Regions from separate parts of the Homo sapiens genome. Here region 1 is linked to region 2. The links come from fine-mapping of genetic effects on gene expression. Tissue or cell type: skeletal muscle. Region 2 holds a variant in brackets; the other region holds the start of a gene. All regions are shown on one strand. Distances are from middle to middle.

Region 1 (2,681 bases), 59 kb before region 2:
GCCATTCTAGTACTGTTGTGGGTATTACTGTATGTGGGAAACAATGGTGTCATGGATGTTAGGAAAAGATGCTGGGATATATATGCCTGCTTAGAATCAGGAGAAAAGACAAATCTCCTTTCACCCTCCTGGTCAGCATAAATATTTTTAAAGATTGTTTAGATTTTTGTCAAGATTTCTTTCTCTTGATGAATTTGTCCTCGATTCAGTGGGGAGAACCAAGAGCCTCTCTTCGTTTCTCATCCTCTCCCTTCCCTCTAGTTCTCAGTTTTCCCATTTTTCTGCACAAGGACAGAAGTGGACTAGAAGATTACATCTAAGGTCCCGTTTAGCTCACGATACAGGCCCTCCCAGAGGTGGGGGTGTGGGCAGGGTCATGTTCCAAGTTCTGCCTCCCTCGATGGACTGTGGGCTCCCAGAGGGCAGAGCTAGCTCTATTCTCATGATTAAGGACATCGAGAAGGAAGGGGTGACGCTCCTAGGAGATGATTTCCCACCCCTGTCCACAAGGAGGATTGGGGCAGCCTGGAGAGGCTCAGTGCCCGCAAGAATTAAGCAGAAGTTGGGACTGGACTGTAAACTGATGCTGTCGCACATGCTTTGGTTCCTGTCCCAAGCCTCCCAGGTTGCTCCGGGTGACTCTGGCCCAGCTTCTGGCTATCCATGAACACAAGTAGTCCCAGGGAGTCATTCTGGCAGAACCCAGGTCTGCTAGCTAAGAACTCCTGAACCATCCGCAATCTCTGCCTGTGGCCTGGACTTGGTGTATGGCCGGCAGGGTGGAAGGAGAACCCACAGGGCCTCTGAAGACAGGCAGGTGGCACACCTGCGGCTGGGAGGATTTGGAAAAGGAGTCCAGCGCCATTCATTTTTCATTCATTTTCCAGCCCAACGTTTGACCTGAATGCTTCACGCTCACACTGCACACACTACTCCATTTATAATACAACTCGAGAAGGGCACATACTACTCCATCCACAGCTCAGTGAAGGGATGCATACTACTCTACTCACAATTCAACGAAGTGGTGCATCTGCCTCTAATTTACTAGCTACCCTGGGGACCTTGGACACGTTGCGTGTCTGGAAATACTGCAGGTGATGTGTGTGGAGTAGGCTGCAGGCTCACCGTCCTGCAAATACTAGCTGTACCACCACCGGCTTTAAAGTCCAACAGACCTCTGGCCCAAGTCAAGTAGCAGAGGATCCAGGGCTTGGGTGGCCCACAAATAGGATTCTTCTCCAAAACGAGGCGCATAATGGCCTTTGTCTCCTCGACAGAAAAGGGAAGGTAGACTGGCTTCCTCTATGGGCGACCTTCGCGACTCTGGAGAAAAAGACCTCATCATTCTCAGACTTGGGAAGGAAGACTAAGCCCGGAAAGGTGGGGACAAGTCCGCTCCAACGCCGCAATGGGGAGTAGTAGGGACCCAGCAACCCGGTGCCGGGAGCCCTGCACCCTGGGAGGGAGAGGCGGTCGCTGAGGCAGGAAGAGGAGGAGGAGAGAGAGGAGGGACGCACCGGGTCAGCTCGCGATCCTGCTGCGCAGGGCGGGGCTCGGGCCGGTCCGCCCGCGCGCAGGTGAGTGAGCCAGGGCGGAGCGCAGCTGCGCCGGGCTTGGGCGCCTGGGGCCGCCGCTCCCCACCGTCGTTTTCCCCACCGAGGCCGAGGCGTCCCGGAGTCATGGCCGGCCTGAACTGCGGGGTCTCTATCGCACTGCTAGGGGTTCTGCTGCTGGGTGCGGCGCGCCTGCCGCGCGGGGCAGGTGAGTGCCGGGCTTTGGAGGCGGATGGCGTGGAGTGGTGAGCTAGCCAGCCAGCGGACGCCCGGCGGAGATGCGGCCGAGGGACGCAGGGTGCGGAGGGTGCGGAGGGTGCGGAGAGAGGGCGGGGACGGCGTAGTCAAAATGCGCGGGTGGCTCCGGGACCCCCGGACTGTTCGGTTCCTGCGCGCGCCGCGTCGGGCGCGTGGGCCTTGCCCTCCTGGAGTCAACCTTGCCCTCGGCACGTGAGAGTGTCCCCGATCGGGGAGCCTCCCGGTCCGGGAGGATGAGCCCGGTGCTGGCCGAGAAGGCGGGAAAAGGAGCTCCCGGTAGCCGATCCCAGGCGACATGTCCAAGGTGGCGCGCCGTGCGCCCCAGGGTCTTTGCCGGGATTCTTGAAAGCACCCAGGCAGGGTGTGGGAAGAGATCTTTCCTCTCCAGGCTCGCCCTCTACCTCCTCGCCTGGTCCAGAGAGAAGGTGCAAAAAAAGTGCTTTCACGTCCGCATTTCCCACTAGATCCCCTTTTTCCCGTCCGCACGCTGCATTCCCCCTCTCCTAAAGTTGAAGAGCGTTGGTGCAAAAATGAAAGCGCCCGGATTTCTTTTAGGGGGTCCCAGAGAAAGCCGCCAGGCATCTGCGCCACCGCAGAGACTGGACATTCCCGCGCCCCTCGCACTTTTTGGCAGTGGACTTTGAGGGCAGGAGGCTGTTGTTCCGGGGATATGTGTGAATTTCGAGTTGTTTCGGTTGGGGGAAGGGACCAACACGTCCCAGTGACCTGTGCCAGCCAGGAAATGCCCTGTGGGCCCTGGATGTATTAGAACGTAGTAAATAACCTGGTTTCTTCATGTAAGAACTTGATGTGAGGCTAGTACAGGTTTCGCGAGATTAGTACAGGTTTTGTGTTTTTTAAATAGAG
Region 2 (2,681 bases):
CGGGCTCATCATTTGCTGTGTGAAAAAGAAGTAGGTGGAATCTCTTACTCTCTTTATCTGATTTGATGCCTCCTCAGATCACACAGACTGGGTGGATTGTTCATTATTGACTTTGTTTTCTTGCTTCCCATTTTTTCCCCCAAAGATCAATGTTAAACAATATTGCCAGGTGTGAGTCATGCTTTCAGGAGAAAAAAAATCCCATGCCTGGGGGTGAGGGGGGGATAAAACACACGTGACATTTTCACCTGTATGTAGTTCATGGTGCAGCTGCCTCAGCACAAGTCCCCTGCAAGCAGAGTGCTGTTTGCTCAGTAGATTGATCAAGCAGGAGTGATCTTGGCAAGAAAATGCTCACGTAGGCTCTGCCAGACTGTGCCTCTGAAACCACTCCCTCCGTCACCCTAAGGAGAACGAATGTGTGTTGTCCCAGCTTGTTCTCCTGCAGTTTCTTAAGCAAACTGCTTTATCCTTGCCTGTTGGGCTCCAGGTATGTAACAGAGGCCAGGCCTGTGGCCCAGAGGAAGGAAGGCCCAGTTAACTGCCTCAGTCTCTCTTTCCATCCCCTCAGGAGGACAACTTCTGTTTTATTTATTTATTTATTTATTTTTGAGACAGAGTCTTGCTCTGTTGCCAGTGGTGCAATCTCGGTTCACTGCAGCCTCCGCCTCCTGGGTTGAAGTGATTCTCCTTCCTCAGCCTCCCGAGTAACTGGGACTACAGGCACACACCACCACGCCCAGCTAATTTTTTTTGTATTTTTTTGTAGAAACGGGATTTCACCTTATTGGCCAGATTGGTCTTAAACGCCTGACCTCAAGTGATCCACCCACCTTGGCTTCCCAAAATGTTGGGATTACAGGCATGAGCCACCGTACCTGGCTGAGCTTCTATTTTATAAAAGGAAAATGTTGACCTTTTTAGACAGAGTCCGTGCTGCCGCCAAACTGTATAAATTCTGCTCATATTTCTGACTAAAGTCATGGGAGAGAGAAGAGAGCTATTTTCCTTAACATGGTTTGACCTTCCAAAAAGCCAATCTGAAAAAATTCTTTTTTTTTTTAAGACAGAGTCTCACTCTGTTGCCAGGCTGGAGTGCAGTGGCGCGATCTCGGCTCACCGCAACCTCC[G/A]CCTCCCGGGTTCAAGCGATTCCCCTGCCTCAGCCTCCCGAGTAGCTGGGACTACAGGCACCCGCCACCACGCCCAGCTAATTTTTTTTTGTATTTTTAGTAGACACAGGGTTTCACCATGTTGGCCAGGATGGTCTCGATCTCTTGACCTTGTGATCCACCCGCCTCGGCCTCCCAAAGTGCTGAGATTACAGGCGTGAGCCACCACACCCAGCCAAAAAATTCTTTTTTAAAAATTAACTGTGGACCTGAGCAAAGAACTGAAATTCCTAGTCTACAACAAGACTGTCTACAAATGTCTCTGCTGATGAGGAAGGACTGGCTTGCAGGAGGTCTTTTCCCCATGAGAAGTGGCTGTACCTATAACACATGGGGGAAAAAGGACTGCTTTTAAGGAAACATCATGTTACTGTTTCTCTCAGGGAATTTTCCCATCTGCGGTGCACGGAATAGCCCACCCAGTTGGGGAAGCATGGCATTAACACTGGGCCCCAGGTTCCTTATCAGGAGGGAATTGGACAAGGAACGAGATCCAGCACTTGCCTCATCTTGAAACAGCGCCAGTTTAAGCCTGAGAATCGTCAGTCCAGCCTTGCTACAGGCCTTGCTTGTGTGAGGCTGCTGGCTGGCAGGTTTGCATAAGGCCTGTCCGTGCCCAAGCTGTTGTAGGAGGATGGACAGGTTGTGCAGTGAGAATGAGGAGAGACAATGCCATCTAACATGTTCACTAAGCGGGTACTTCCTGAGTGTCTCCTGGGCACTAGGATTCATTGAGGTACTGGGGACAATGATGAGTGAGACAATCTCTTCTATGGGGGCAGGGGGACTGAAAAGACAGGCAAATAAACAGTCAGTTTCAGGATAGCATGAGAAGAGCTTTAGTGGGGACAAACATTACAGGGCTTCAGGCAGGAGCCTTAGGAACCCATCCTCCTGGCCAGGGGCTCAGCGTTACAAGCTGAAGGTACCAGGTTTATTTTTATCTCAGCAAAGTACAGACAGCCTGTCCACCATTATGAACTGCCAGCCTGTGCCTTATATGGCCCATTACGCTAATTGAGCTAATGTCCTCCATTTGCATCACTGGTCAGCTAAAAAGTCAGCATTCCCTGCTGTTTGGTTCACAAAGATGGAGAGCAAAGCTTTGTTTTCTGTGGCAGCAAGCGCTAATGCCCATGCAGGTCCAAGTACCAAAGAACATTATAAACCAAATGCTAATGGTGTTATTGAAGAACTCTGGCACTGCAGCCTGAATTTTGTCTTCTTTTTAGCTCTTTCCTCTGTTGGGGGTGACTACTGAGGCACTGGGTCTCTCTGCTAATGCTGAGTTATCCTCTCCCCAGCTCATACTGAAAACTAAGATACAACCTGGCCTCCTGAGTCTCTTGTATCGCCATTTAAAATCTAGATGGTCAGAGCTTTTCCCAGGCAAAAGAGAGATAAAGCATGAGCTACGGGAAAGTACTAAGAGTGCGGGAGGATTGACCTAGGCATGACTGAGCCTGATGTGGTTGAGAAGGTCTGGGACACTGCCCATTTCTGGTAGAATGG

What was found. PIP is the estimated chance that this variant, and not a neighbour inherited with it, causes the effect.
Region 1: it holds the start of CDCP1, and the variant in region 2 is fine-mapped to the expression of CDCP1 in skeletal muscle (GTEx, PIP 0.96).

What each region holds. Positions count from the first base shown.
Region 1 is chr3:45,145,289-45,147,969 of GRCh38, reverse strand. CDCP1 (CUB domain containing protein 1) reads left to right here and starts at 1,592. Exons shown (of 9, transcript NM_022842.5): 1 at 1,592-1,764. The coding sequence starts at 1,683.
Region 2 is chr3:45,086,403-45,089,083 of GRCh38, reverse strand. CDCP1 (CUB domain containing protein 1) reads left to right here. Exons shown (of 9, transcript NM_022842.5): 8 at 1-30. Among named protein-coding and RNA genes, the nearest start is that of CDCP1, 59 kb to the left of the region's middle. The variant G/A (reference allele first, on the strand shown) is at 1,131.